5 linked regions of the Homo sapiens genome follow. The protein of the gene in region 1 purifies or fractionates together with the protein of each later gene. This does not show direct contact. Each region holds a gene or a part of one and is shown in the gene's direction. Other genes may lie near its edges. The genes, in order: MTCL2, MARK3, HCN1, AKAP9 and COP1.

Evidence for each region.
Region 2: the proteins of MTCL2 (region 1) and MARK3 purify together in Homo sapiens (affinity purification with mass spectrometry; 2 studies listed by BioGRID and IntAct, with this or other methods). This does not show direct contact.
Region 3: the proteins of MTCL2 (region 1) and HCN1 purify together in Homo sapiens (co-immunoprecipitation; one large-scale study listed by IntAct). This does not show direct contact.
Region 4: the proteins of MTCL2 (region 1) and AKAP9 purify together in Homo sapiens (affinity purification with mass spectrometry; one large-scale study listed by BioGRID and IntAct). This does not show direct contact.
Region 5: the proteins of MTCL2 (region 1) and COP1 purify together in Homo sapiens (affinity purification with mass spectrometry; one large-scale study listed by BioGRID and IntAct). This does not show direct contact.

The regions. Positions count from the first base shown.
Region 1 is NC_000020.11:36,778,803-36,785,169, reverse strand, and holds part of MTCL2 (microtubule cross-linking factor 2), read left to right. Parts: 3' UTR 1-6,367. UniProt on the Homo sapiens protein: Microtubule-associated factor that enables integration of the centrosomal and Golgi-associated microtubules on the Golgi membrane, supporting directional migration. Preferentially acts on the perinuclear microtubules accumulated around the Golgi.
Region 2 is NC_000014.9:103,488,803-103,495,373, forward strand, and holds part of MARK3 (MAP/microtubule affinity-regulating kinase 3), read left to right. Parts: intron 1-2,974; coding exon 2,975-3,232; intron 3,233-6,571. UniProt on the Homo sapiens protein: Serine/threonine-protein kinase. Involved in the specific phosphorylation of microtubule-associated proteins for MAP2 and MAP4. Phosphorylates the microtubule-associated protein MAPT/TAU. Phosphorylates CDC25C on 'Ser-216'.
Region 3 is NC_000005.10:45,257,321-45,263,891, reverse strand, and holds part of HCN1 (potassium/sodium hyperpolarization-activated cyclic nucleotide-gated channel 1), read left to right. Parts: intron 1-1,081; coding exon 1,082-1,971; 3' UTR 1,972-6,571. UniProt on the Homo sapiens protein: Hyperpolarization-activated ion channel that are permeable to sodium and potassium ions. Displays lower selectivity for K(+) over Na(+) ions.
Region 4 is NC_000007.14:92,075,427-92,081,997, forward strand, and holds part of AKAP9 (A-kinase anchor protein 9), read left to right. Parts: intron 1-1,428; coding exon 1,429-1,581; intron 1,582-2,269; coding exon 2,270-2,449; intron 2,450-3,652; coding exon 3,653-4,726; intron 4,727-6,571. UniProt on the Homo sapiens protein: Scaffolding protein that assembles several protein kinases and phosphatases on the centrosome and Golgi apparatus. Required to maintain the integrity of the Golgi apparatus. Required for microtubule nucleation at the cis-side of the Golgi apparatus.
Region 5 is NC_000001.11:176,045,476-176,052,046, reverse strand, and holds part of COP1 (E3 ubiquitin-protein ligase COP1), read left to right. Parts: intron 1-5,722; coding exon 5,723-5,866; intron 5,867-6,571. UniProt on the Homo sapiens protein: E3 ubiquitin-protein ligase that mediates ubiquitination and subsequent proteasomal degradation of target proteins.

The DNA.
Region 1 (6,367 bases):
CCAACACGGCTGGCCATGTGGCCTCAGAACACTACTTATTACTCAATGCCTGGTACTTGGCCAGCCCCAGCGGTCAGTCTATAAATACTCACTGACAAGGTGGAGGGCTGGACGGCCATCACCACTCCCCAGACGTTCTCCATTGCCTGTCTCATTTCCCTCCCTCCCTCTGACACCTTTCTTCATGAGTCGAACGTGGATTACTAAAGCTCTATTAAGAGTGTGGAGATCCCTCCAAGTTTCCCAAATGAGAACTCACAGGAAAACAGGACTGAACTTTGAGAATGTTGTTTATCGCAGCTTTGCACATAAACCTGAGTGTCTCCCAGCCTGCCTCGGTTCTCACCAGCCTGCCAGCCTTTTCACCAGCCTCTCTCCTTAGCCTTATGGCCTTTCACGGCTCTTCTCCCTGCCCCAGCTCTGCTGCCCGCCCTTCCTCACGTCCCCTGTGAGCTGCCTGAGCCATTGGTTGGATTTCGATGTGGCTCATTGCAGCATGTGGGGCAGCGCCTCCCATGGCCTCGCCTTGGTGCCGGTGAACCCCTTTTGGTTGCACACATGCTCCCCACACACACATAGACATCAGCCTTCCTGTAACTGACTGGGGACCCAGAGTGGAAACACCAGGATGGATCAGCTTGTCTGCAGAATTGCCCATCAGGAAGACCAAAAGCCAGTAGCTTTGCTGATCTGCCCCCAGGACTCTGGAGGCGCCCCTGCACTCCCACCTCCCACCTGCCAGTTCCCAGACCCACCCATTCGGGATCACCTGGACCAGTTACCCCAAGTCCTGCATCTCCCTTCCCTGCAGGCTGAACACCAGGGTCATGCCAGTCCCGCCAGCCGCCTCCTCCATGCCCCAGTGACTGGTGTGGGCAGAGCAGGCAGCCAGTGGAGCTGTGGGCCAGTTCCGCTCTTGGATGCTGCTGCTCTCACCCATGAGGTCAGGGGGGCCCTCCAAGGTTATCTCCAGGTGAGGGGATTCACATCAGGCCACAAGCCACCAGAGGCCTTCTGCCACCTCCCAGAGCGACAGCCAGGGAGGCTGCGTACTCAGCCTCGGGGAGAAATCCCCGTGGGACCTGAGCCCCAAGACCTACGGACCACTCAGCCTTACCATCGTACCGTCCAGGATTGTCCTTGCCATCTTTGTTGTCTCAGCCAGACCTTGGTTTTCAGTAAAGCCCCAGTTTCTACTTCCTGCATGCCACTGTGCAAGGCCACTCATCACTGTTCCTGCAGAAGCCTCTGGACGTGGGGCTGGATGGGGTTGAAAATGTTACATGTAAATATTGGTTTGGTTCGGTTTTTAGCATTTTACTTGGTAACTGGTTGTTTTCTTTTTTGGGGTGGGGGGATTGGTTTGTAAAAATTCTCTACTCTTTTGGAATGTGATTTCTAAGTTTGTTGGTTTCTTCAAATGCCTTTTAAGTCTTGGTAACATTCCCAAAGCAGAAAACTGCCTGACCCACAGTGGGGATTCCCTGGAGAATTGGGGTCCCAAGAAGGAATGCTGCCCTTCTCGAACCCGTTCTCCCCCTTCCTCCTGCCTCTCTGCCTTTTACTGCTATTCCCTTCTTCTCCTCCTTTATCCTTCTTTCTGTTTTCCCCATCTCCACTCTCTCTTCAACCAAAGTCCCAAGGAACCCTCGGGGCTCAATCCCCCATAGACCACTTGGCTTGGGTCCATGGGGTTGGCATCAGTTGGTTGGCGGAAATGGGGGACCAGTTGGCATGATGGCCCTAAACTGGGAAACCTCATGTTTCTTATGTCTCACCTCTTTCCAGAGCCAAATCAGCCCCTTTTGGAATGATGACTTCATTGGAATGCAAATCAAGTCATTTTGGTGCATCAGTGGCTCTTAGGCCTGCACACACGAGACATCAGAATCCAATCCTCTGACCCTGTGCCAGCCCTTTCCCCCAGTTTATTTCCCACCAAAGGCTGACCTCTAAGAGGTCTTGCTTTCTATGAACTCAAGATGGGTCCCACCTCTAGGTGTCCCCAGGTGCACTCTTCTACCGGTTGGCTTCCGATGTGACAAGGCCAAGGGCCCAAAGACTTGACCCTCTTACACCCTTGCTGACATGGTTCCATCATGTCCACCCGCATGCACTTTTATGGTTTCATCACCCAGCCTCTTCTCCTCTGGCCCACCCAGCGTCCAGGCTCTTTCTCCCTCTCCCCTCCTATCTAGAATGTCCCCTGCTTCTAGCCTCACCAGACCCCCCAAGCTCCCACTACTTCTTCCATAATAATAGTAATAACAATGGTTATCATCATCCCCTGCACATCCCGCCTAAAGCACTTTACTATATAGAAAACGTTTCCCCTGGCCGGGCATGGTGGCTCACGCCTGAAATCCCAGCTCTTTGGGAGGCTGAGGCGAGCGGATCAGTTGAGGTCAGGAGTTCAACGCCAGCCTGGCCAACGTGGTGAATCCCTGTCTGTACTAAAAGTACAAAAAATTAGCTGAGCATGGTGGTGCGTGCCTGTAATCCCAGCTACTCGGGAGGCTGAGGTGGGAGAATCGCTTGAGCCCAGGAGGCGGAGGTTGCAGGAGCAGAGATTGCGCCACTGCACTCCAGCCTGGATGACAGAGTGAGACCCAATCTCAAAAAAGAAATCGTTTCCCACCCCACATCTCCTTCAGACCTCTCAGGGACAACTCTGGGAGGCAGCCTTGGCAGGACATGGGTTAGTGCGCCCATTTTGCTGTGAGGAAACTGAGGTACAGGTCTCATCCCAGAGCATGAGAAGTCACTGAGTTTAGATGAGAACTTGGGTCCAACTCTGTCCTGTTTGCTGTGCAAATCCGCTGCCCTGCTGGGGGCTTTTGGTGGGTCCAGAATACCCAGAATATGCTGCTGGCCAACCCAGGCATAAAACAAGTCCATTCTAGATCACTGAGCCTTGTGTATTCCAGAGGGTGATCTGAGGTCCCCATTCAGCAGAATTCTCTGAGGGCATGTTCAGAATGTAGATTCCTGGGCCCCACCTTGAATTTGCATGTTTAACAAACTCTCCTGGGGTTGAGGGGTGGGTGCAGTGGTCACACCTGTAATCCCAGCACTTTGGGAGGCTGAGGCGGGTGGATCACTTGAGCTCAGGAGTTCGAGCCTGGCCAATATGGTGAAACCCTGTCTCTACTAAAAATGCAAAAATTAGCCAGGTGTGGTGGCACATGCCTGTAATCCCAGCTACTTGGGAGGCTGAGGCAGGAGAATCACTTGAACCTGGTGGGGAGCAGCGGTTGCAGTGAGCCGAGATTGTGCCATTGCGCTCTAGCCTGGGCAACGGAATGAGACTTGTCTCAAAAAAAATAAAAAATAAAACCAGCCCTCCCCGGGGGATCTTAGGCACTATTGGCCACACCATTGGTGTTCGTGGCCCTGATTATTAGGCTATCTTTCTTTTTTTAAGTTTTTTTAGATTTATTTTTTATTTTATTTATTTATTTATTTATTATTTATTATTATTATTTTTAGAGACAGGGGGTCTCCCTATGTTGCCCAGGCTGGTTTCAAACTCCTGGGCTCAAGTGATCTGCCCTCCTCAGCCTCCCAAAGTGCTGGGGTTACAGGCAGGCATCAGCCACCGTGCCAGGTCATCTTCCTTTTTCTTTTTTTTTTGGAGACAGAGTCTTGCTCTGTCATTCAGGCTGGAGTACAGTGGCGCCATTTCAGCTCACCGCAGCCTCCACCTCCCAGGTTCAAGCAGTTCTCCTGCCTCAACCTCCCGAGTAACTGGGATTACAGGTGTGTGCCACCACACCCGACTAATTTTTTTATTTTTAGTAGAGACGGGGTTTCACCATGTTGGCCAGGCTGGTCTTGAACTCCTGACCTCAGGTGATCCACCCACCTCGGCCTCCCAAAGTACTGGGATTATAGGCGTGAGCCACGGCATCCAGCCTCATCTTTCTTTTAACCAATAAACATGATGCTGTATCTTAAAAAGAGCACTGAGCAGGGACTTAAGGGATCGAGTCCTCAACCAAACTGATTTAATTACTCAGGATTTTCAAAAAGCATCAGAGGCTATTTACAATCTTAATCATAGGGGTTCAGTAAAATAAAAATAAGAAGTAAAAAAGCAAGAGAAATTATTCTGTAAATCTAACTGGTGTAATTCCCATAATCATGCAATTAAGTTTTACTCTTGAGTTTCCTGACAGCCATTGGTAAAAAGAGAAACACATCAGGATTTATAATTTTTATCATCCAATTATGGGAAGCAAGCATGTTGGCCCCAGGAGACGAACTCTTCTACTAATTTATAGCATGTATCCTTTCATCAAGGGCCACTGAGCCAGTTGGTGAGTCAACGGGTGAACCTAAGATGCAAGGATGTTTTCCAGGTGACTATTTAAAAAAATAAATAATCCACCAACGTGATTGACCTTGGCGAGATCATGTTTCTAGTCTATACCTCAGTTTCCCCATCTGTAAAGTGAGGATAATGTCCCACCCCATGTAACTGTGGTGAGGACCAACTGCAACACTGTGCCTGCGAGTCTCCTTGGAAAAGTGTAAGGTTCTACACAAATGGAAAGTGATCTGATCACACTCAGTGTCCCCAGCCCAGCCTTTCAGTGCCCTGGCCCTGGGGTGGGGGACAATACTCTCCTCACCCCCTTCACTAGTCTTCATGAATAGCAAGGAGGCCATAACATAATTTGGTCTAAACCCCTTCCTTTTTAAAAGAATGATGGCAAAATGTGCATAACATTAAATTTACCATTTTAAAGATTTCTAAGTGTCTCGAAGTACATTTGCAATGTGTAACTGCCACCTCCAGAACTTTTTCATCATCCTAAACTGAAACTCTGTACCCACTAAACAGTAACTCCCCACTCCCCCTGTCCCCAGTCCCTGGTAACCTCTATTCTACTTTTTTTTTTTCTCTGTGGATTGGCCTATTCTAGGTATCTCTTTTAAGTAGAATCATATAGTATTTGTCCTTTTGTGTCCAGCCCCCTCATTTTTTGAGATGAGGAATCAGGCCCAGAGAAGGCAGTGGCTCACCCAAGGTCACATCGCAAACCAGAGGCAGAGCCAAGACCAGAACCCAGGTTTCCTGACTCCTAACAGGTCTTGCATCCCCAGTAGTGAATGAGACACTGCTTTGACTTTCTGTAATCTTGGTTTAGCCCCTTCCTTTCTCTGGGCTCAGTCTGCTTCCCACCACTCACCCATTCTTTCTTTATCATCTCCCTCCAAAGCCTCTTGTCCTCCTGCCTCCTCTTCTCCTTGGCTGGTTCCTGCCAGCAAATGGAGTGGCCCTGGTCCATGCCAGGTTTTCCTCTTCTGGGTCCGGAGCTCACTATAGTATTCAGCCCTCAGTCCTCCCAGGATGTTCTTCCCAGCACTGCTGCCTCGTGCGGATTTTCCCGTAACCTCAGTAACTGGCTTCTTGTCCCCCTGCTTCCTACCAGGGAAGCCTTCCTGTCCGCGTCTGTGGTTTCCCAACTCTGATATTTGCTCTCAAATGTGGTGGTGTCCTGGTTCTGTGTTTATTTATTTTGTGTTTTCTCACACACACAAAAAAAAGCCTCTTCCTCCAATGCATCAGGAGGCACCAGCCCTGCCAGCCCTTCTCACTGGGCTCACCCTGCCCCAGCAACCCCCCGGTGCCACCCTTAAGCCACACTGTCTTCTCTGTAAGCAGCCTGCCAGCAGCAGCCCCAGCACTTTGCAATGGGCGTGTGTGTGGTGGTGGGTGGGGGGGGCTTGGATCCCTCCTTTTTCCTCCCCTGCCCTGCCCAGGCCCAGATGGCCTTGACTGTAAAGCAGGTGCTGCCTGACAGGTTCTTCTCTCCCTGTCTCTGGTCATTGATCCATCTCTTTGTCCATTCAGTATCCAACCATCCTCTCCATTCTCCTCTGGACCTCACCACTCTCAGAGCTGCTTGTCCTGGCAGAATCTACAGTTCACCCCAACTCTATGCCTTACCCCTCCCAACCCAACAGCATTTGCAGTTTGCAAAATATACAGACCCAAGTCCTGAGGGGACTGAGGACATGATGCTGGGCCCAAGTCTCCTGCTCAGGGCTTCTCTCCAATGCCAGCCCTGCCACTCCTTCCTCACCCTCCTTGGAGCCTCCTCTGCTGCTTGTCTATCCCAACGGCCCTGCTCCCCTCCCTTCCTGCCCTTCACCAGCTTTCTGGACACCATGCCCTGAGGAAGGGACCTTTGGTTTTCTCTAAACATCTTTGAAGGGCTGAGGCAGTCAGGGCTGGCTGCCTTGTCACTCTTTATTTGGAAGCCACTCAAACCATTCCCAAGAAGAGGGACCTCAGCTGGCAATCTGGAAACCTGGCCCAGGTCTGGGCAGATGTCTTCACTTCTCCTACCTTCCCAGT
Region 2 (6,571 bases), on another chromosome or scaffold:
CTCTAGCCTGGGTGAATACAGCAAGACCCTGTCTCCAAAAATAAAAATTTAAATAAAAATGTTTTAATTCAGGGACAAGCAGTTCTTGATTTTAAAGACGTATCTGCTTTATGTTGGGGCTATCAGAATTCCAGTTGCTAATTGATTAATCTGCTCTGTTAGGAGAACGTTTGTTGAATACCTGCCCTGCCAGGCTTTCTGCTTACACTGGTGGGGGGCACATTGACAAGATTTTGGGCTGTGTTTTCAGGGACCTCCAGCAGAGAAGGGTCACTAGGATACAATGTGGCATGCATGAGCTAAAAACAGAAGTGATTTAACTCTCAGAGGGAAAATGGATCAGATAACACTTCATAGAGATGACGACATCTGGTTCATTTTTGAAGAGTGAATAGAAAGATCCCAGCCCTCCATACCAAGAGAATAACTCCTGCAAACATTTTCTGACCTGGTGCCTGACCAATGGACCACACATCATCAGGAAGGCTAGAAAGTTGAGTTCCAGGAGGGAATGATAGAAGGCAAAGCCTAGAGAGATGGCAGGGGCCAGACTTCAGGGGCCTGGGGATGTGTACTTGCACTCCAAGTCGAGGAGACTGAACTTTTTACCAAAGACTTGGTGTTCTGTAGAAGTATGAGCAGATGAGTGACAAGATCTGGTTTATATGTTAAGAAGTTCTCAGCTGTAAGGTGAATAGATTGGAGGTGTTGGGGCAAAGGCAGGGGACCCAGTGAAGACAAGGAGCGAGGCTCTATACTGAGGCCCTGGTAGAAGTGGAGCAGATGGGCCACCTGAAGAGCTACTAGGAAGTTGACACCAATAAGATGTCGTTAGTCTGTGTATGGGGAGTGAGGGAAAGGAAGAACTTGCCAGTTTCCAGGTTTTAATCCTTCCAAAGGATTTCTGCAGAAAGACACTGGAAGAGCTGTATTCCTACTTATCCTTAAAGGAAAGAAACTGCCCTTGAATTCCAAGGACATGATTACTGAGCTGGAATTCCAAATAATGTGTCCCAGTGAGACTCCTGGGGGTAGTTTTGTCCGGTAACTGTGTGTGTTAGATGAAACTGCAGACTTCCAGCCACTCTATCTTACCATGTCTGTTAACAGTTAATTTGCTCTGATGAATTTGCCCATCTTGGAGAAGGGGGCTCTGCTGACTGTTTTTTATCTTGGAGTAAATGTCCTTTGATTAGGAAGGTTCTAGACTATATTGTTAAAACAACATTGGAAGGCTGGGCATGGTGGCTCATGCCTGTAATCCCAACACTTTGGGAGGCCAAGGCAGGCGTATCGTTTGAGCCCAGGAGTTCAAGACCAGCCTGGGCAACATGACAAAACTCTCTCTACTAAAAATACAAAATTAGCCAGGCATGGTGGAGTGCGCCTGTATTCCCAGCCACTTAGGAGGCTGAGGTGGGAGAACCACCTGAGCCCAGGAAGTTGAGGCTGCATTGAGCCATGATCGTACCACTGCACTGCAGCTAGGTGACAGCAAAACCCTGTCTCAAAAAAACACCAAACAACATAGGATACTGTTATATAACAGCTAGTTCCTATACCTGTAATCTTATTAATTCATTTAAAATACATCAGTGCGGGCCGGGTGTGGTGGCTCACACTTATAATCCCAACACTTTGGAAGGCCAAGGCGGGAGGATCACTTGAAGCCACAAATTTAAGACCAGCCTGGATAATATAGCGAGACCCTGTCTCTACAAAAAAAATAAATAAAGAAAAAATAAAATATGTCAGTGTGTTTTGGGAACAGGTTGAGAGCATAGCATGCTCATATTATATATTCATTTTACCACTTAGATTTGAATTGAGGCATCTCTTAGAATAGGTTTTATTTTGTGCATACCCTCAGAGGACATTGTCCCTCTCATAGAAACAGATATTCAAACATGTAATCTGCTATTTTATTTTAAGGTAATAGATTTTTATGATTACTGTTTGGAAAAAAAAAAAAGCAACTATAGGTTAGCAGTTGCTCCAGAATCTCCAAAACAAGCTTAGGAGATTTTTATTCTTTACCAGAAATGAGATGGCTTGGGAGGAAGGTGTGTGCATTACACACAGGTTGCTCTGTGGTCACTGCTCCTTCATACTGTGTTTCTGCCTCTGCCTGAACCCAAACCCCTCCCAGCCTGACAGAAATGTTCGCTTACGCAGCTAGCCCTGCCTCAGTTTGTACATCTACCTGTCGGCTGAGACATCAGAAGTCGATGTCCATGTCAGCCTCTGGGCACCCCAAGATGATGTTACCTCCAATAGACAGTGAAGGAGATAACTTCAAGGCTATGTAAGAAAAATGCACATTCTTTGTGAAACTAATGTGTACCCACTGCTTCTTAATTTTGTGCTGTGGATTTTATAGTCTGAGATTTTGTTACAGTTGTCCACAAGGCGTCCTTCCTCCATGTGATTTTAGTTAAGCACATCTTTTGTCATGATGTCCTCGGTTGTGTATTGTGTGTCTTCGTGCCTTCGCGTACTACAAAATGTATAAGAAGTTCCTGCTCCTCCCAAGTTGCTTTCAGCATGTGGAATTTTATACATATATCATTTGTTTACTTCCAAAACTTTTTAGTTGCCTGTTCTTCAGTTACGCCAGCATATCCTTTATTTCTTTCGTATTGGCACAGTTCTCTATGTAAGCAATTTGAGAGGGAAGCAAAGGGGAAAAGTTTGAGTTAGCTGTTCTCTGTCCTAGAATTTCCCTGCATTAATCTTGTCCTTGAAAATATATATAATACTGGTCCCTTAAACTCCATGAGGCTTTGTCTCATTATGTATTGTTCTTTTGGTACCCTTTCCCACTTAACTTACCTTTTGCTCCTAAGTCCTATAAAATACCCCTTGGATCTGGATTTTTTATACCCGATTTTCTCCACTGTGTATAAAAGGTATATTGTGACTGTAAATTTTTGTATATCATGTTCTGAGAGCTTCTTACTTTCTGATCTCATAGCACTATTCCTGATCAGAGAACTCCAGTTGCTTCAACACACAGTATCAGTAGTGCAGCCACCCCAGATCGAATCCGCTTCCCAAGAGGCACTGCCAGTCGTAGCACTTTCCACGGCCAGCCCCGGGAACGGCGAACCGCAACATATAATGGCCCTCCTGCCTCTCCCAGCCTGTCCCATGAAGCCACACCATTGTCCCAGACTCGAAGCCGAGGCTCCACTAATCTCTTTAGTAAATTAACTTCAAAACTCACAAGGAGGTAAGTGCTAGGTGCTGGTTGTTTTGGAGTGAACACATAGAGCAAAAGGAAAGATGTCTTTTTTGTTGTGTGAAGCCACTGCTACCTGGATGCTTTTCAGTCTGCCTTCAGCTCATGGTTTTCTGGTTTTATATATATCTAACTTTATACTTTAAAACCTTTAAAGTAGAAATTGTAGAGCTCAGAGTCTTCATAACACTAAAAGTTAACTAGCATTTAGGAGGTTTTTGTTACTGTTCTTTAATTATTGTTCCTTTTGCTCACGTATCTGTCTGCATGGCATGTTCGTTGTTGTTGAGCAGGCAGACCTCGAGTTCTGGTGTGGGGTGGGGGGCTGGCACTCTGTAACAATCAGCAGGAAAGACCATGCATGTCTTTCATAATCATCTCCAGCCCCAGAGGAAAGAGACAGCTTCTCTTTTCTCACTTTATTGTTGTTAAGGAGCAGTAAATTTCTTAAGAGTCCAAATCTTGAAAGTTTCTCTCTCAGTCTTAGTAATTTATATTGAGAGCAAGGTAATGTCCTTAAATGGTATAGTTTTGGAGATAAAATCTCTGGTTTATTATCAAAAAATAATGTTACTATTATTAAGTTATTTTTATTAAATGCTGCATGATTCTTGGCTGATGGTCCTGGAAATTTTTTAAAATGTTCCATGTGTCTAGTAGGCTAGCATCTGGGGCCTCAGTAAACTCTCAAGGGTCCTTTGAGATTAACTTCATTTCCGTAACCTTGTTACCTGTTACAAAAGCCCAGAAATACTGGCTGCTTCAAGAGGAAAAAGAAAGGATACCACTTTGAACCGTAAACAATAGTGAAAGGCACCTTTCCGAGAAGGAGCCCAGGAAACCCAAGAGCCCCTGCAGTTTCAGGACATCCTTGGAGAAATGTTTTGAAATTAAGCCTAGCTGTGGATGAGTCTGTCTGTGGTATCTTGCAGGTTTGCCTAGGACGGACCCTCTTATTTGTCATCTGTAGCTTACAGGACAGCAGTAGGAGTCTTTCCCGAGTCTGAAATGATCAGTACCCTCCTCTGTTTTTCTGCATTCCCTATGGCCTATAGCCTATTACTTCATTTCACTCCATCTCCATTATTTAAACTAAGCTAAATGTAATCTTGTATTCGATCATCTGAAACTTCGGTGAGTCACATTAAAGTCTGATCTACTTATTATTAGGACATGGAATAGATTAGGGAGTATTCCTTTTTTTTTTTTTTTTAATTTTTTTTTTTTTTTTGAGACGGAGTCTCACTGTCGCCAAGGCTGGAGTGCAGTGGTGCAATCTTGGCTAACTTCAACCTCCGCCTAGATTAGGGAGGATCTCTGACATCCATTAGCATTAACTAGAAGTCAGACGCATCAGAAGGTTTCTATTTACCCTCTTACTCACTTCTTAGCCCCTTTATTAAGCCACCTCATTTTAAACTGGGCAAAACAGAATCAGCCAAAGAGCTTTGCCAGGTTTGGGACACCCATTCATGACCAGCCAGCAAGAGAGACAGTGAGTTCAATCTGAGAAGAGTCTGGTGACTCCCAGAATAAACCATTCCTTCCTGGCCAGCCGTGGTGGTTCATGCTTGTAATCCCAGCACTTTGGGAGGCCAAGGCGGGTGGATCTCCTGAAGTCAGGAGTTTGAGACCAGCCTGACCAATATGGTGAAACCCCATCTCTACTAAAAATACAAAAATTAGCCAGGCATGGTGGTGGGCGCCTGGAGTCCCAGCTACCCAGGAGGCTGAGACAGGAGAATTGCTTGAACCCGGAAGGCAGAGGTTGCAGTGAGCCGAGATCGTACCACTGCACTCTAGTCTGGGTGACAAAGTGAGACTGTGTCTCAAAAAAAAAAAAAAAAAAACTTTGAGTTTATTTTTCTTCTTTGTACTCTTTTTTCAGTCATTTTAAGACTAGTATTGGGCTGGGCCGGATGGCTCATGCCTGTAATCTCAGCACTTTGGGAGGCCAAGAGGGGCGGATCACCTGGGGTCAGGAGTTTGAGACAGGCCTGGCCAACATGGCAAAACCCCATCTCTACTAAAAATACAAAAATTAGCCAGGGGTGGTGGCGCTCGCCTGTAGTCCCAGCTACTCTGGAGGCTGAGCCAGGAGAATCGCTTGAACCTGGGAGGCGGAGGTTGCATCTAGCCAAGATCGCGCCGCTGCACTCCAGCCTGGGTGATGACAGAGCGAGACTCCATCTCAAAAAAAAAAAAAAAAAAAGACTAGCATTGATTGGCCAGGCATGGTGGCTCACGCCTGTAATCCCAGCACTTTGGGAGGCCGAGGCAGGTGGATCACCTGAGGTCGGGAATTTGAGACCATCCTAGCCAACATGGAGAAACCCAGTCTCTACTAAAAATACAAAATTAGCCGGGCATGGTGGCACATGCCTGTAATCCCAGGGAGACTGAGGCAGGAGAATCACTTGAACCTGGGAGGCAGAGGTTGTGGTGAGCCGAGGTCACGCCATTGCACTCCAGCCTGGGCAACAACAGTGAAACTCTGTCTCAAAAAAAAAAAAAAAAAAAAAGACTAGCATTGATTTTATTACATGTATATAATGGAAAAAAGGAAACAAGATTATCATTGATAAAAATATCAGCTACCTCTTTTTTTTTCCCCACAGAGTCTCACTTTATCGCCCAGGCTGGAGTGCAGTGGCATGATCTCAGCCCATGGCAATCTTCGCCTTCCAGGTTCAAGTGATTCCTGTGCTTCAGCCTCCCGAGTGGCTGGGACTACAGGCGCCCACCATCGCGCCTGGCTAATTTTTGTATTTTTAGTAGAGACCCGGTTTTATCATGTTGGCCAGGCTGGTCTTGAACTGCTGACCTCAAGTGATCCACCGCGCCCAGCCAAAGCTACCATTATTTGAATGCTTATTATGTGCTAAGGTAGATGTCTATATACATAGATACAGTCATATTCATTTTATACATATAAATATGTATGTACATTATATATATGCATATTTTATGTATAAAATGAGTATCATATATATACACTTATATGTGTGAAATGAGTATATTTATACACATGTACAAGTGTGCACACACACTCATTTAATTTAATCTCCATAGTCCACCCCATTTTGTAAAAGAAACTGAAGGTGAAGTTTGGAGAGATTAAGGCACATATTTTAAAAAGTATCAGGGCCTGGTGCAGTGGCTTACGCCTGTAATCCCAGCACTTTGGGAGGCCAAGGCAGGTAGATCAGGTAGATCACTCAAGGTCAGGAGTTCAAGACCAGCCTGGCCAACATGGTGAAACCCCATCTCTACTAAAAATACAAAAATTAGCTTGATGTTGTGGCACATGCTTGTAATTCCAGCTATTTG
Region 3 (6,571 bases), on another chromosome or scaffold:
AACCCGGGAGGCAGAGCTTGCAGTGAGCTGGGATGGTGCCACTGCAACTCCAGCCTGGGCATCAGAGCGAGACTCCGTCTCAAAAAAATAAATAAATAAAATAAAATAAATAAATAATAAATTTTAAAAAAAGAATTTCCTGGGGAAATTTGCTTTTAAACTACTGAAATTCAGAGCCCATGTATGATTATTTAGATTTAATTGGTAGGGAACAAGTGGATGTTAGTATTTTTTAAAGCTCCAGAGATAAGAAAAATATCCAACTAGGACTGAGAATGACTGGTGTAAGACACTGGGTCAAAAGCAAAACCTGATACAGTCCTCCTCAGATTTGCATTTGGGAATCACCTGGGGATCTTAGTAAAATGCAACATCTGATTCAGCAAGTGGGGTCAGGCCCAGGAGGCTGAGTTTCTAGCAAGCACACAGATGAGACAGGGGCAGTTGGTTCATTTTCCATAGCAAGGATGTGCAATCACTTTTTTGTGTATATGGTCTTTCTCAGCCCTGTTACCTGCCAACCATGTTTTTTTTTTGTTTTCCTGGGCACTGTTCTTAGTCTTCTCATGTCCTGATCTCCTTTCAGGTAAAATGAGATTATGAACACACCTATCTGACAGGGTCGCGGGTTACATAAAATCATCTACCTAAGGTCTTTTGTAGAGTGCTTATCACATAGTACGTGTTCAAATGTTCTCGCTTATGTCTCCATGGTCCTTTCTTGAAAAAGTAACTTTAAAATCAAATGTTGATTCCAAGCCCATCCTATTCCAAAAGCCCTTTCTTCCCCCATTCTTCAAGGTGGCCCTCATGTTAAATATCTCCATTTCTTCTGTAAAGTGGCTCTTTGCCATATTACAGGCCGTTCAACTTGAGTAGAAGGTAAGAGTTCCCAGAGAAATACAGGAAGTGTGAAAGGTAGGAGCCACATTGGTATTTGGTGTGTAAAGGTGAGTGACTGGCTTTTTAAGCCTCTCCTGTGAAGCACAGCTATACTTCTGTTTGCAGGAGCCACTCTCACTTGGCGTTGTCATCAGTCATTGGTAGGCTTTCTAAGTGCCTATCTTTCTTTTGCTGACAGGAAAGAAAAATTCAATTCTTCTGCAAAAGTTCCAGAAGGATCTGAACACTGGTGTTTTCAACAATCAGGAGAACGAAATCCTCAAGCAGATTGTGAAACATGACAGGGAGATGGTGCAGGCAATCGCTCCCATCAATTATCCTCAAATGACAACCCTGAATTCCACATCGTCTACTACGACCCCGACCTCCCGCATGAGGACACAATCTCCACCGGTGTACACAGCGACCAGCCTGTCTCACAGCAACCTGCACTCCCCCAGTCCCAGCACACAGACCCCCCAGCCATCAGCCATCCTGTCACCCTGCTCCTACACCACCGCGGTCTGCAGCCCTCCTGTACAGAGCCCTCTGGCCGCTCGAACTTTCCACTATGCCTCCCCCACCGCCTCCCAGCTGTCACTCATGCAACAGCAGCCGCAGCAGCAGGTACAGCAGTCCCAGCCGCCGCAGACTCAGCCACAGCAGCCGTCCCCGCAGCCACAGACACCTGGCAGCTCCACGCCGAAAAATGAAGTGCACAAGAGCACGCAGGCGCTTCACAACACCAACCTGACCCGGGAAGTCAGGCCACTCTCCGCCTCGCAGCCCTCGCTGCCCCATGAGGTGTCCACTCTGATTTCCAGACCTCATCCCACTGTGGGCGAGTCCCTGGCCTCCATCCCTCAACCCGTGACGGCGGTCCCCGGAACGGGCCTTCAGGCAGGGGGCAGGAGCACTGTCCCGCAGCGCGTCACCCTCTTCCGACAGATGTCGTCGGGAGCCATCCCCCCGAACCGAGGAGTCCCTCCAGCACCCCCTCCACCAGCAGCTGCTCTTCCAAGAGAATCTTCCTCAGTCTTAAACACAGACCCAGACGCAGAAAAGCCACGATTTGCTTCAAATTTATGATCCCTGCTGATTGTCAAAGCAGAAAGAAATACTCTCATAAACTGAGACTATACTCAGATCTTATTTTATTCTATCTCCTGATAGATCCCTCTAGCCTACTATGAAGAGATATTTTAGACAGCTGTGGCCTACACGTGAAATGTAAAAATATATATACATATACTATAAAATATATATCTAAATTCCCAAGAGAGGGTCAAAAGACCTGTTTAGCATTCAGTGTTATATGTCTTCCTTTCTTTAAATCATTAAAGGATTTAAAATGTCGTTGTAAGATTATTTATTTCTAACCTACTTTTACTTAAGTCCTTTGATATGTATATTTCTCTATTTTATGAAGAGTTCTTGGATTCAATGGAAACAAAACTGATTTTAAAAAGGCAACTCAAATGAACTAGTAAATAGCACCAATCAAAACTTTCTTTCATTAGCTGTGTCTCTGCATCTAAATTGTTAATCATTAATGGTGGAGAATTAAATAACAAATCCCATTTTATAGATCTAAATTGTATTTCGGTGCTTTCAATTTCAAATTAGGTTAAAGAATGCACTACTTGCTTGGCCACCGTAGGAGACTAGCATTGCCACTGTTTGTTAAGAATATCACTAACCTCAAACATGTTCATTGATCTTTCAGAAAGCTGAGGGAAAATTAATATTTGTCTTCATGTGTTATCGGACTTTTACCAAGACTCGATCAATGTTAGTTGTAAATAACTTTTTCAACCCAAATAAAAATAGCTATTCTGTGTTGTATGAAGGTAAAAGTCATTGTTTAAGAATTTAGTTTTATTGCTTCACTTCAAAACTTAGAGTTTTAAATTTTACAAAACCTGATTGTGAGAATTATTCAATTGTAATGCAATGGCTTGAAACCTACAATATTATTTTAACCTGCAATGTTTTATGCAAAATTGTATGCTCGAATCTACAAATTGCTTGTATTACACCAAAAATCGTTACTTTTCTTTCTTCTTGCCATAATCAAGCATCTGAAAATAGTCCCTGCATGCTTCTGGGGAAAAAAAAATAGGTTCAAATCAGTCATTGTAGAGAAAGGCTTACAGTATTTCTCGTTTCTAGAAAAGCATAACAATTCATTAATTGCCTATCTTATAATTCCTATAAGGCTGACTTGGATCTCTGACTTAAGTCTAGAAGTGAGGTTTTCACTTTTATTTAATATTATTGCTATTATTATTTAAATAATTATTTGTAAACCACAGCTTGATTTGGAGTTAAGTGTTGTCTGTGTCTTCACTGTAGCTGGTAATTTACTATGGTATTAATTTAAAGAAATAAATTCAATACAGCATCACGTCTGTTTGGGAACACACATTTTGCTCTATGTATATTGTAACTAAATGGTTAGTAAACTTTAAGGCATGTGGTGACTAACGTAGCCCTTAGATAGGAGGTTTGTCATTTTTAATGTGTTGAAAATAGTACAGACATGGTGACAGAAAGCAGGGGTAAAGTTGAACGTCTATGAGCATTGTCTGTCTGTTTTCTTAACTCTTTACATGATCTGTGAGCACCTGCTTCTTCTCAAAGAACTCCCTTAGTAATCATTTGTGCCTAATGCATCCCACACATGTGGAGTATGACTGGAACACAATTGAAAGATTCCTAACAACTGGCTGCGGTAAATAACCCAAGTTAAGAGCATGACTTAAAGTGGAGGTCTTCAGTATCTCTGGCACTGGCAATACATTTAAGAACATACAGAGATCACACATTATGTGGGACAGGGCCTGCAGATAGACTTGAGGACAGAAAACAAAAACAAAAGCAGAAACTCTAAAGTGGATCCTTGCTGCCTGTTATGCCTTTTGTGGATATAATACCTATAATACCAAAATGAGTTGTTATGTTTAATTTCAAACAAATCCCAACTGGTGTGGAAGTAATTAACTGCTAGTCGATGTAATGTAATCATCAATATGCTGGTGACATATGATGGCATGTCAGGAATACTGTTGTAAGAAAGGGATTGTTCAGTCTACCTAGAACCTATGGGAAAGCTGCAAGACCATTTACATATCAGTACAAAACTCCTTTATTTTATTAAAATATGAGAATTAACTTCAATTTATTAAGATTACGTATTGGTCCTTTAAATTATTAAAGGTTTACATTTGATAGGATTAATGGATTTGGTAGTGAAATATTTTTATATATATAAATTTTTGGTTTTTTATTTTGAGCACTATTGGGAAACATAAGCAAAATTGAAATGCATGGTCTTTCAGTGCAACCATACAATTTTTATTCACTTTGTAATAGAATGGACAAAAAAACTAAGGTTTATATATTAAACTAATAAAAAGGTACAGGGTAAATTATATACATATATGTATGAATGTATATATACTTAGATTAAGAAAAAAAAATGACTCACATTCCTGTAATATAAAGGTCCATTGCTAGTTGAAAAGTGACCTCTTTTCTCTGTACATAGTGAAGCCCGTATGTATGGAGTTTTAATCTGTACAGAAAGAAATGTATTATTCATTGGTCTTTCTGCTGCTGGAAAGATAATAGAATAGCTGATTCTTACAACAACTGTATGATCAGGGATGAGTTAGAGTATTTCTTTTGTCTTTGCTCAAAGCCATACATATATAAATATATATAAAGATTATTAATAAATTCAACAAAAAATAAACTACAATCATGAATATTTTATTTTATCAATATATGCTAATCAAATGTTTTATTTTATTAATGAGTACAGCTTTGCCTCTATTTTTACATCATAAAATTTCCAAGAGCTTATACTTGATAATCACATAAAATCAATTATATTCTATAATTCTGGAATGAGAGGACTTTAAATAGAACATGGATTTTTCAACCACTTCTTTGTTTACCTTTTTCGTATAGTAAAATATGAGCTTATTTTCTTTTTTGCTCTGTGCCTTTTTAGAATGTGGTTGTTCTCCAACTTCAAAACACAACCATTTTGTGTAATTATTGGATATACAGATGAGAAATAATTTTCCTGTAATAATGGTAAATAATTGTCCTGTAATATATTTATACAAACCTATTTTGTTATAATAGTTCTATGACATACCTATTTTGTTATAATAGTTTTATAACATACCTATTTTGTTATAATAGGGCCTTGGGCTCTATTATAACAAAACAGGTTTATATAAATACATTCATATTTATAGCCTTAAACAAAATAGGTTTGTATAGTAGGCCCAAGGCCCTATTATAACAAAATAGGTTTGTATAAATATATTCATATTTATAGCCTTGGGCCCTGCAAAGTTATTTGGAGAGTGATAGAACCTCCCCACACAAGTGGGTTTTAAATGATACCTAAAAGCCTGAGATAGAGTTTATCATAATGAGAATAAGTAGTGAAGCATTCCTGAAAACAAGGAGGATAAATAGTAGCAATGGCAATATATTCTATTCACCAAAAAAGTAGCTTGTCTCCAGGTCTGGATGACCTCTTCATAAGTGAACAATTCCCTGATGAATGCTGTTCCACTTTAAAGAGATGGTTATTTTGCAATTTATAAACTTAACTGAGCATACTATTTTCAGGACACTACAAAGTACATAGTCAAGTTATTACCGTCATTCCTATAGGACAGAGAATGATTTAAACAATATGACATGTTTAAAATTTTAGATGATTTATTTCAAATCCTGAATTATGTCTACTTCAAATTATGAGCAATCTCTATTATCTTTCAGGACTATTTAAAAAATCTCCATACCTCCTCTTTCAGCTTAGGTTTTTATATTTGTTAATTTTACTATGTTACTTTGCTTCTATGGCCCTCACTTGCACTGTTTATAATGTTAACCTGTTTGAATGAGATATCTCTCCATTATATCTTTATCTTTTTAGAACATGTGCCATAAAACCCATGTGGTTATTTTGTTCATATGCACTACAACTAGCAAACTTTTATTTTATGTTCACCTACTTTAAAAAGTACTCATACTGTACCATGGGAAAGAAACATGGGCCTTATAGAATGGAATGCTGAGCTATTTTGAGTCCTGAAAACAATGGCCAAAAATTTAAGGAACTGTGGTTGCTGCATGCACCAAATTGTAGCACATACAAATAAATAAAATACAGTTCTATAACTGTATTCAATATGGTTATTTTCAAGGAAAAATAGGATAGAAATTTTCTTTGAAAGATTTGCTATTGTACTTAGGGAAGTACACCTGCTATTACCCCTCAAAAGCAATGACTTTCTTAAGCAATTTCAATTTTTTTCCTTTTTAACAACCCTGCACTTGCACAACCCTGCATCTCTTGTCTCACCCTAATGCTGACCCTGCTTCCAATTCAGGCTTTGACAGGGACAAATGGAGATTTTAAGGTTTTTTAATGAGAGAAGCCTTGCTGACACTCCCCGCATCCCACCTTGAAAATTATTTAAAGATGATCTTAAAAGAACCTACAGATAATGCTCTGAATTTGTTTACAAGGTCCTTGATGTGGAGAGAATGAGTAATACATTAAATGCTGGGGAAATAATTATCATTTAGTGAAAAATTAAGCATGCTTTTCTAAAATGTGGATGTTTAACAGAGCACAGCTGATTGGGAACACTGGCAG
Region 4 (6,571 bases), on another chromosome or scaffold:
ATTTATGTTCAGTCATTAAATGTATTTCAGTGTCTACTGAGTTTAATAACCAGTGTTACAGAAAAAATTTTAAGTGTAAGTCTTAGACATTAGTTATTAGAAGCAGGATAAGTGATAGTTTAGAGTGGAAGATTCAGAGATAAACTCCTCAGGTTCAAAAGCTGGCTTCTCCACATACTCGCCATGTGGCCTGAAAGCAAATTACTCCTCTCTGTGACGTCCATCCTCATCTCTAAAATGGGGATACTCAGAACAGATCTTATAAAGTTGTAACAGGGTTTTAAGAAATAATACATATAAAGCACTTTGTGCAGTGCTTAGCGGTAAACTGTTACAAGTGATGGCTGTTACTACTAGTATTGATACTGTTTAGGAAATACTAAGCTAACTGGTTTTTAAGGATTTGCCAGTGTTCAGATATGGTTCTCAGTATGTGATGTGTTAGTGTGTAATCAGCGATTCCCTCTTTCAGTTTCTAAGGCAGTAAATGATTCATAAGCTGCTTTCTGAGCCACTTGTCACTAAGTGTTGCTGAGGATAGGCTCTGTTGCCTTAGATAACAGAGATGCTCCTGCATCTTAGTTTGCTTTTTGATCAGCAGTTTTGATCATGAGGTAAATACACATTTGGAAATCATTCATTCACTTTGTATTAAGTAGCAACAAACCAGTGAGCTAAATGAATGTTACTGTCCTCAGTCAAAACCAATTTTCAAATATAAAAATAATTCTTAATATTCATCATTCGTTTCAGTCTCTAACCATCAAAAAGCAGTTGCTTTACCATTATTCATAATCCATCCTCAAAATGATTAAATAAATTTCTGTTGTCCTACCTATAGGAGCTCTCTAATTTTCTCCTGAATTGTATAATTCACTTACTCTAAGGTTTTTGTAATTCAGACCTAAGGATCTCTTGGTCTTAGTTTCTATCTTGGCTTCCTTCTGCTTAACAAACCACATGGCAGCCAGGCCTTTTAGTAAGTTAATTAGATATTTTTGGACTAAATTGAGTTAGTCTTATATGGTGGCTAACAAAACAAACAGTTCTACAACTTTTCTAGGCCTTTTGATAGCAACTTAATGTAACATAAACTAAGATTTAATATGTGGACTCTTTCCCTTCCTCCTATGACTCTTTTCTGCTTCAGGAGAAGAGACTAAGGTAGGAAATGGCTCCTTTTATCCTTCCTCAGGAGGTTTCCTCTCTGCTTTGTGTAGGATAGTTTAAGGATGGCCAGTTTGAGCATGTCTAGGAACCACACAGGTAACACAGATTATACCTGGCTTAGAAAAACCACATTCCTTTATTCTTATGACTCATGTTTTAAGCATGCATACTTTGTAAAGCTAATATAGCACTCTTCATTTTATCTTGATAAACGTTTGTATAAACATTTTTTCTCTTTTGATAATTTTGTTATTAAAGATTACAAACTTAGAAGAGCAATTAGAACAGTTTAGAGAAGAACTGGAAAATAAGAATGAAGAAGTTCAACAATTACATATGCAATTAGAAATACAGAAAAAGGAATCTACTACCCGCCTACAAGAACTTGAACAGGAAAACAAATTATTTAAGGTAATTAGTTAAGAAAAACTTTTATCTGTAAATAAGTCATAGTTTCAGTCCTATATTGCTTTATTATTATTATTATTATTATTTCTTTCTTTTTTTTTTTTTTTTTGAGACTTAGTCTCACTCTGTTGCCCAGGCTGGAGTGCAATGGTGTGATCTCGGCTCATTGCAAGCTCCGCCTCCCTGGTTCAAGCAATTCTGCCTCAGCCTCCCGAGTAGCTGGGACTATAGGCACGTACCACCACGCCTGGCTAATTTTTGTATTTTTAGTAGAGATGGGGTTTCACCGTGTTAGCCAGGATGCTCTCGATCTCCTGACCTCGTGATCCGCCTGTCTTGGCCTCCCAAAGTGCTGGGATTACAGGCGTGAGCCACCACACCTGGCCCCTATATTGCTTTATTAAGCATTCGATAAATCCAGCTGTTAAATAATACTCAACAGAGGAACATTAACAGGCAGACACATTTGCATACAGCTTATTTTCAGCCCAACCTGAACATTTGAATTCATCATAAATGAAAATTTTGGGATCATTTATCAAAATATTTTAGAATTATTGATTTACAGTAACCATATGGTGTCTCTGATTTTATTCATTTGTACGTTATAGGCTCTGATTTCTTTTGTAATTATGTTCTGAAAATGATAGGTAATGATATATCCAACTGTGATAATTATTTTTGTTCCTAGGATGACATGGAGAAACTGGGACTTGCCATAAAGGAATCTGATGCCATGTCTACTCAAGACCAACATGTGCTATTTGGGAAATTTGCTCAAATAATACAGGAAAAAGAGGTAGAAATTGACCAATTAAATGAACAAGTTACGAAACTCCAGCAGCAACTTAAAATTACAACAGATAACAAGGTATACTCATTTAAAATTGATTATGAAATTAATATGAACCAGAGTTTTAAAGGGCAAAATGGTTATAATGTTGCTCCCCATTGAATTTAAAAAACAAACCAATTTTATTTTATTTTATTTTATTTTATTTATTTTTTTTGAGACAGAATCTCGCTCTGTCGCCCAGGCTGGAGTCCAATGGTGCAACCTCGGCTCACTGCAACCTCCACCTCCTAGGTTCAAGTGATTCTCCTGCCTCAGCCTCCCGAGTAGCTGGGATTACAGGCACCCACCATCACACCTGGCTAATTTTTTGTATTTTTAATAGAGATGGGGTTTCACCATGTTGACCAGGCTGGTCTCTATCTCCTGATGTCAGGTGATCCACCCACCTCAGCCTCCCAAAGTGCTGGTATTACTGGCATGAGCCACCACGCCTGGCCCAATTCTCTTTTATTAATTTTAATTTATTAAGACACATTGGTGGCCAGGCACAGAGGCTCACACCTGTAATCCTTATACTTTAGGAAGCCTAGGTGGGCGGATTGCTTGGGCCCAGGAGTTCAAGACCAGCCTGGGCAACATGGTGAAACTTTGTCTCTACAAAAAATATAAAAATTAACTGGACATGGTGGCATACCACCTGTAGTCCCAGCTGCAGTGAGCCTCATCATGCCACTGCACTCCAGCTTGGGTGACAGAGTGAGACCCTGTCTCAAAAAGAAAAAAAAAAAAAAGCAAAGACACATTGGTTTAATAATTTATATGTATTTTTCTCCCCTCCTAATATTGTCATAGGATTCTAATGTTTTTCAGAAAGGCTCTGTGACTTAGATTTTATCATGTTATTCTAACCAAATCTATTATAAATTATAATATTTAATATGAGTTAAGTAAGGTAATTACCTTTGGTGCCATCGGTTGTAGACTTTATTTCCGTACTTCATCCTTTTCCATTAAGAAGTATTGATATTGACTATTTTCCTAATAGGGAATCAGCAACTAAAAGCTTATATTACTTTATACTTAACAGAACTTTCTGAGCCTTGTTTGATATGATGGGGGAGATATTGGTCTATAATGAAATTAAGTAGTATGTCTGAGAAGTAGTGTATTATTTTTGTGTGTGATCATCTCTTTGAGGTACTGCCCTAAAATAAAGTAAAATTTTCAAAATGTAAATACATATATATTATGTATGTTACCTTTTTCATTAATTATTAGGTTATTGAAGAAAAAAATGAACTGATAAGGGATCTTGAAACCCAAATAGAATGTTTGATGAGTGATCAAGAATGTGTGAAGAGAAATAGAGAAGAAGAAATAGAGCAGCTCAATGAAGTGATTGAAAAACTTCAACAGGAATTGGCAAATATTGGACAGAAGACATCAATGAATGCTCATTCCCTCTCAGAAGAAGCAGACAGTTTAAAACATCAATTGGATGTGGTTATAGCTGAAAAGCTGGCCTTGGAACAGCAAGTAGAAACCGCTAATGAAGAAATGACCTTCATGAAAAATGTACTTAAAGAAACCAATTTTAAAATGAATCAGCTAACACAGGAATTATTCAGCTTAAAGAGAGAACGTGAAAGTGTGGAAAAGATTCAAAGCATACCAGAGAATAGTGTTAACGTGGCTATAGATCATCTGAGCAAAGACAAACCTGAACTAGAAGTAGTCCTTACAGAGGATGCTCTTAAATCCCTAGAAAATCAGACATACTTCAAATCTTTTGAAGAAAATGGCAAAGGTTCCATAATTAATTTGGAAACAAGGTTGCTACAACTTGAGAGCACTGTTAGTGCAAAGGACTTAGAACTTACCCAGTGTTATAAACAAATAAAAGACATGCAAGAACAAGGCCAGTTTGAAACAGAAATGCTTCAAAAGAAGATTGTAAACCTACAGAAAATAGTTGAAGAAAAAGTGGCTGCTGCTCTTGTCAGTCAAATCCAACTTGAGGCAGTTCAGGAATATGCAAAATTCTGTCAAGATAATCAAACAATTTCATCAGAACCTGAAAGAACAAATATTCAGAATTTAAATCAACTAAGAGAAGATGAGTTGGGGTCAGATATATCAGCATTAACCTTGAGAATATCAGAATTAGAAAGCCAGGTTGTTGAAATGCATACTAGTTTGATTTTAGAAAAAGAACAAGTAGAAATTGCAGAAAAAAATGTTTTAGAAAAAGAAAAGAAGCTGCTAGAACTACAGAAGCTATTGGAGGGCAATGAGAAAAAACAGAGAGAGAAAGAAAAGAAAAGAAGCCCTCAAGATGTTGAAGTTCTCAAGGTTAGTTTTGTATTTTATTAGTTTCATTTAAATACCCCAAGAAACTAAGCTGATTGCTAATTTACTAAATATGGTGTTCTGTTTACATCTAACAATTTATACAAGAAGGTTTTTATAAAAATATACCACTTATAAAAAATAAACTCTTGTTAAAAGAAAAACTAGGACAGGCGCGGTGGCCCACGCCTGTAATCCCAGCACTTTGGGAGGCCGAGGCGGGTGGATCTTGAGGTCAGGAGATCGAGACCATCCTGTCTAACACGGTGAAACCCCGTCTCTACTAAAAATACAAAAAATTATCCGGGCGTGGTGGTGGGTGCCTGTAGTCCCAGCTACTCGGGAGGCTGAGGCAGGAGAATGCTGTGAACCCGGGAGGCAGAGCTTGCAGTGAGCCAAGATCGCGCCACTGCACACTCCAACCTGGGTGACAGAGCGAGACTCCATCTCAAAAAAAAAAAAGAAGAAGAAAAACTAGACAAACTAAATTTACGAGAGTTTATTTGAACAAAAAAGGATTCACGTATTGGGTAGCATTCAGAACCAGAGGAGTTTCACAAATCTCTTTTGTGCAACAGTGGCCAGTGAATATTTATAGACAGAACTACCAAATAAAATACAGAAATAGCTTGATTAGTTACAGTTAGGTGTTTGCCTTATTTGGACCCAGTCTGCTCAGTTGACTGCTTGTCATTAGCTAAGAGTTGGCTGTTTATTATACTCCTAAGATACGTTTTCAGTTTGCTTACGTACTCCTAAGTTAGATTGTAGTTCCTTACATAGGAACTCAAGATACAGAGACAGCCTCAGGCCAAATTTAACTTAACACTGTGTAGTCATATTATTATCACTAAAATAATGGATACAGACTGTATTTTATGGTCTTTAAATATGATATTTATTTCATTAACATCATCATTAAATGGAGCAGTCAGAAGAAACTAAGAAACATTAATTTTAGCAAATGTTCTCTAGGATTTATGGGGATTTTTTTCTTAATTTGCTTCTAATATGCATGTTATGTTATCATTCCTTTTAAGTAATAATAAGTATGAAAATATGTTAGGATTGACAAAGAATGCAGACTTTACAGAAAGAAATCTATTATTTAATAGCATCTACTGAATTAATTAATGTGTGGGTGACATATTTTACAATTTTTTTTTTTTCTTGAGACAGAGTCTCGCTCTGTCGCCCAGGCTGGAGTTCAGTGGTGTGATCTCAGCTCACTGCAGCCTCCACCTCCTGGGTTTCCAGCAATTCTCCTGCCTCGGCCTCCCAGGCGGCTGGGATTACAGACACGCACCACCACACCCGGCTAATTTATATATATATATATATATATATATTTTTTTTTTTTTAGTAGAGACGAGGTTTCTCCATGTTAGCCAAGCTGGTCTCAAACTCCTGACCTCAAGTGATCCGCCTGCCTTGGCCTCCCAAAGTGCTAGGATTACAGGTGTTAGCCACTGCGCCTGGCCAGCTTTTACAAATTTTATACCTGATAATAGATTTCATCTGTTTTAAGTAAAAATGCGTAGTTGACCTCTGTAAGTTTACTTATGAGAAGATCTGAAATCGCAGTTATTTCTTAGCATATGACAGATAGGACAAGAGCTTTTTTTTCCTCCAAATTCTCACCTTATAAATTTATAACTTTGAGTAGCTGAACTTCAGTCTTCTCCAAACACCAGAAGATTAACTGATAAATCACAATTCTATAATTATATATTTTGCAAAGAATAATAATTCCCTGGCTTTTTCCTCCTTCATTGGAACTAAGTTACTTAAGTTATAGATAATTAAAATAGTAATATAACTTTCTTTTTTTCCTGGACACAGAGTCTT
Region 5 (6,571 bases), on another chromosome or scaffold:
TGTATATTACTGTAGACTTTATAAACATTGCACACTTTGGCTAGCTAAATTTATCTAAATTTTTTTCTTCAATAATTAACCTTAGCTTACTGTAACCTTTTTATTTTATAACTTAAAAATTTTTTTTTGACTTTGTGATTTTTTTGCAATAACCCTTGGCTAAAAACACACATTGAACAACTATACAAAAATATATCCTTTCTTCATACCCTTTTCTATTTAAAATTTAATTTTAATTTTTTTTATTTGTTTGTTAAAATCTGAGACACAAACACATGTATTAGCCTAGGCCTACATACGGTCACGGTCAACAGAATCACTGTGATCTCTTCCACATCTTGTCTCACTGGAAGGTCTTCAGTGCCAGTAACACACATGGAGCTGTCATCTCCTATGATAAGATCTTCTGGAATACCTCCTGAAGGACCTGCCTGCGGCTGCTTTACAGTTTGTTTGTTTTTTTTTAAAATAAGTAGAAGATATACACTAAAGTAATGATAAATGTATAGTATAGTAAATACACAAACCATTAACAGTTGTTTATTTTCAAGTATATGTACTGTACATTAATTGTGTGTGCTGTACTTTTATACAACTGGCAGCATGGTAGGTTTGTTCACACCATCTTCTCCACAAACCTGAGAATCGTGTTGTTGCACTGCAAGTCATTAAGTTAGGAATTGTTCAGCTTCATTATAATTTGTGGGAACATAAGATGTCCTTAAATAGCACATAACTGTAATGTGTTTTTTTTAACATCTTGGTTTTTTCAGCAGCTATGTTAGTATCCAGCAGATAACTGGCACTCTGGACATTTGATGGCTGAAAATATTCACGGTTCATTCTTTTCTTCGAATGAGCCCCAATAATCATTGCCTCCTGAATTCCTCTATCAATATTTTGTCCTATCATTTGACATTTGCATATATTGTCTGTAATCTCTTCTACTAATTATAAAACCGGTGAGGCTACCTTATTCTTTTTTTTATCCCTTTGTGTTTAAATTGTTGCACAGGCTGAATTATGTGTTATTATCACTATATATAATGTAATGTATATTATTATTCTGTGTTATTATTCTTATTTTGCCTGTGTATATGTTCATTGAAGACCAGCTCATTTGTTCTAATTGAAATTGCAAGTTTGCATGATGATTGAGAGCATAGACTCTGGAACCAGTTGCTTAAATTTGAATTATCTGGTGTATCCGTGGACAAATTACTTAACATTAGTATACCTCAGTTTCTTTATACAGTGGAGATTTGAAGCTTGTATAATTTATGTAAGGTGGTTAAAACAATGCTTGACACATCTCAAGTGTTATGTATGTTATGGAAGTTTCAAGTAGTATTGATTGGAAGAAAGTTGAGTAACATCAATTCTTAATTTACTTTACTTGTGTTTGTATTTTTTTAAAGATCTGCTCATCACTTTTCGTTAAAATGGCCAGTTTCTAAACGTATATTTTGTTTCCTTAAAGTTTTAGTTACCTGCTCTTGAGGCACACTATCATGGTAATGAATGAGAATGAGACCTTTGACAACTGCTCTTACTTTATATTTTAATTTGATATAAGTTGGGCTCTAGCATCCAGGGACACTAATCCACCATGTTTGTTAATACTTATAATTGCAAAAAGATATGAGAGACATTGGAAACACTGACAAAATTCACTGCTTGGGCTTATTGACGGCTTTCATTGCTTTGTGCCGCATTGTACTGGCAGTATGCATTAATCAGCTGTCCTGTGCAGTTTCTTGCCTTGCTGCTTAATCACTTGACTAATGACATTTTTGACAAAGAATACAGCTAGTTTCCTACAGCTGAATTACGTATTTCAGCTGTTGATATAAATCACTCTTTTAACAGTTGAAATGTTTCAAAATGTGAAAGAAAAATGCAATTTATGTCCCCAGAAACACGATTTTTCAAAAGTATACTTGTATGTTGAAATTAAAAACAAATTCTGTGAAATTGAATTTGTCATGCAGTAAATTTTTATAAATCTCTTGTTTTAATTATTACTGCTGACAGTGGATGGCAGAAATGAACGTTGTATAGCAGTAGTAAGACTTAAAGTTTGTTTTTGAATTTAATTGCATAAGCAACATTTCAGTTAATTAGTTTACCTTTTATTTAGTCTCAGCCTAACTAGTCACTGTTTAACTTTTGAAGTACTTTTGCTTGGGTTATCAGATTTCATAATAAAAGTAGTTGAAATATCATACTGTTAATATAAGAGGTCATCTGTTTTGTATTAGTTCTAGAAAGCTTTCTGCACCTGAAAATTACAGTGTTCATTTCAGTTAGTTCATGATCTGTTTTTAGAATCTCATTATGTTCATGTTTGAGAATATATATGATTAAATATGTCAGAGATAGGGAGCAAATGTTTCAGTATCTAGAAGTCCTTAAATCCTGAGTCTTAGTGATGTGGAAGTTCTTCCACTAAAAAAGGTGGTTTGAGGGGGGGGACCTGTTTGTCTTTCTTTCCCTTTTAATCAAAATTTTCTAGAAATAATATTATTCTTTATACTTTTTGATTAATATTTCTATTAAAATCTATTTTTACAGTATAAAAGGATCTTGTTACCCCCAAAATATTTTTAAAAACATACTCTACAGGTTCTTGATACCTTAATATATTAAAAACAAAACATAACCAAAATGTAAGAAAATAATAGCAATGAAATCAAAACAAAAAGTTAACTTTTTAATATGAGAGTTAAGAGTTAGCTAATGTCACTAAATAATAACATGTAGAAAAAAGAGAGAGAGCTGTCTTGAATAACAGGATACCAGCAGAAGAAATAATAGACATATTTAGGTCATCATCTTAATTCTTTTTTTTTTTTTTTTTTTTTTTTTGAGACGGAGTCTCGCTCTGTTGCCCAGGCCGGACTGCGGACTGCAATGGCGCAATCTCGGCTCACTGCAAGCTCCGCTTCCTGGGTTCACGCCATTCTCCTGCCTCAGCCTCCCGAGTAGCTGGGACTACAGGCGCCCGCCACCGCGCCTGGCTAATTTTTTGTATTTTCAGTAGAGACGGGGTTTCACCTTGTTAGCCAGGATGGTCTCGATCTCCTGACCTCATGATCCACCCGCCTCGGCCTCCCAAAGTGCTGGGATTACAGGCGTGAGCCACCGCGCCCGGCCCTTAATTCTTTTGACAGCATTTTTACTTATGTGTCAGTTTTCTCCCTGTAATGTATTTAAGCTATTATTTTGATAGGTTAGTGTTTAAACGTATTATATATGTTAAAACTAATAGTTTAGTAATGGCATACTTTTACTGGCACAACATTGGAATGGTGTTGATTAGCTATGTATATGAGTAGGCGGAGAAAAAGTATTTAGTGATAACTAGTTCACTTGAAGTCTCAGCTATACCAAAACCTCCTAAATTAAAAACAGGATTTCAGTTCTGATAATAACTCTGTCCTTTACCAGATAAAGTAGTATTTCTCCTTCAGTGACATGAGACTATGGGTATAAATTGAGTTGGGATAGATGAATAGTTGTCATCATTATAGTTATGGTGCATTAAAATCCACATGGCAGCAAGTAGTAGCTGAGGCAGCAGTTCAATTGAGGTTGTACAAATAAATCTACTGCATTGCTATAGTATCATACTTTACTGGAGGGAACATTTGCTGAATTGTGCCCTAGTCAGTGACACTTAACTGAATAAATTTTTTTTTTAAATTGGCTGGGCACCATGTCTGACGCCTGAAATCTGTAATCCCAGCACTTTGGGAGGCTGAGGTGGGAGGATTGCTTGAGCCCTGGAGTTCAAGACCAGCCCAGGCGACATAGTGAGACCCCATCTCTGTAAAAAAAAAAAAAAAAAAGAATTTTAATTCTTTAAAAAATTATATAAAATTAAGGAAGCATTTAAAGCTGTAAAGAAAAGTGGGCGTATCAATGTGTGTCTTTAAGGGAAATAGTCCTTGTTGTTGTTGTAGTTGTTTTTTAAGACAGGGTCTTGCTGTGTCACCCAGGCTGGAGTGCAGTGGCACAGTCATGGCTTACTGCAGCTTCAAATTCCTGGGTTCAAGCAGTCCTCCCACCTCAGCCTCCCAAGTCTCTGGAGACAAGAACCCATCACTATGCCTCACTAATTGTTTCATTTTTTTGTAGCGATCGGGTCTCACTATGTTGCCAGGCTGGTCTCAAACTCCTGGACTCAAGGGATCCTCCCACCTCGGTCTCTCAGAGTGCTGGGATTGCAGGCATGAGCCACCGAACCCAGCCTGAAATATTCTTAATGTGTCTTTTTCTTACTTACCATCATCAGTTCAGCAAGCTTCTTAATAAATCATTAATCATTAACTGTTCTGTGAATGGATATTAAGAAAATGGATGTTTGTATTTTTGTATGTAGGTGTTTGTATTTTGTGCATTAAATGAATGCTTAATAGATACAGAGCACTAGCTAGGCATTTTGAGAGAAGAAACACACATACATAGATATTGAAGATACATTCATACACATAGATTTTAAACCTTTAAACCTTTAGCCTTTACACTTTGAGTTTTACATTAAGAGCTTTGATCTGTAATAAAGCATAGTAATTATTAGCACCAGCTCTGAAACCAGACTACCTTGTGTTTGAATCCCACCTCAGCCACTTACAGATTGACTAACTTTGGGCAATTTACCTCACCTCTAATCTTCATTTTCTCATCTGTAAAATGTAGATAATAATAATACATATATCACAGGTTGTTATGAGGACTAAATGAGGTAATACATGCAAAATGTTTTAGTAAGTGAATGATTAATGAATATTAGGTATTATTGTGTAATTAATTGTAGATCAGTGAGAATTCTTATCGCTAAACCTCTAGAAAAGATGCTTAAATCATATTGAGGAATAATGTATGTGATGATTCATTTCAACTTTTACTACCTTTGGGCTAATTAGATTTCCAGCTGGTTATGTAACAACTGTGTTTAGGCTGCAAGTTCTGTAAAAGCGAGTATGATCTTGTACTTGCTTTCAAATAGCTTGTTTTGGAGCTTATATAAAAATGATCAGCAAGAGAGGAGTGAATAACGCTGAAGGAAAGGAGATTATTTATTTATTTATTTATTTAACCTCTTTTGTGATATGAGGAATGTGTATTGGGGTTTTATAATTCAGAGAGATATTTGGGGAGGGGGATTAGGTATGGATTTGGGGAAAAGTAATGATAATTCAGTGGTTCTGTTATATGTATTCCATCCCCTTGTCATCACCCAATTGCTTCAGTAATTCAAATTATATACTAATTTATTTATTAAAAATAAAATTTAATATTGTGAAATTCTACTACCTCCACAAAATGGCAGGGAAATAAGTAGAATGTATGGAAAAATTAGTTGATAATTGTCTTTTGGCATACTTTTAGTATATCAAATGATTCACGCCATTAAATCTTTCTCAGTAAGCTGTAATATGGTTATTAGAACTGAATGAAAAGCATGTCAGGTGTCTTGGAACAAAAGTACACCTGTGCACAATTGTGTAGATATACAAATGTATATATTAAAAGTTTTATATTACACAAATCTCAACAACTTTTAATTTGATATGTGTTGATTACTTAATCTGGATATGAGGTCTAGTACAATTTGAAGGTATTTAAAGTAGATCTTTTATCCTTGTAGACCGAATTACTTTAGAAATAGAAAATAGCAAATTCTGAAATGTTGTCATTACATACTTTTTCCCCTTAGTATTGAATTTGACCGGGATTGTGACTATTTTGCGATTGCTGGAGTTACAAAGAAGATTAAAGTCTATGAATATGACACTGTCATCCAGGATGCAGTGGATATTCATTACCCTGAGAATGAAATGACCTGCAATTCGAAAATCAGGTATTTACATTATTTTCTTGACATGATGCAGTATAGATGTAACAATTTGCATATGTAATTATCATGAGATTATTTTACCTTTGCATGACACTTTTTACTCATGGTGAACACTATTATTGTACTATGTATACAGAGTATATATTATTACTTATATCATCTTTCTTACAGATATTGGTTGCTTTTTTCTTGTGAGGTTAGCCTTTTTTTTTTTTCTGGTTGCCAAATTAAAGTTCTTCTTTCACTTAATCAAATAAAGGTCTTTGTTGGACATGGTTGTTGGAGACTCTATGGAGTACTGAATGAGGATTAATGTAGCTTATGAATAGTATTTGAACATCAGGAATTTTTCCCCTAGCCTGCACATATCTCAACATATTAGAATTGTTTCTAGTTTTAAGAATTTTTTTTACAAGAATATTCTGCTTTTCACTGAAGGAATGGTGTTTATGTTTTCTGTATTAGAGATTATACTTTATAAGCAGTGCTTTTCAAACCTAAAATACTCTTAAACACTAACAGTATGTTAAGACTCTACTCCTGATCTGCTCCCCAAAAAATCTCAGAAGAATTCTAGAATCTGCTTTTTTTTTTTTTTTTTTCCTTCTAAACAAGCTTCCCAAGCTGTTCTCATGAGCACTGGCTTTAAAAGAGAATTATATGAGGAAATCATCTAATAATAACTTTGTATAGAACTTTGAACATTTT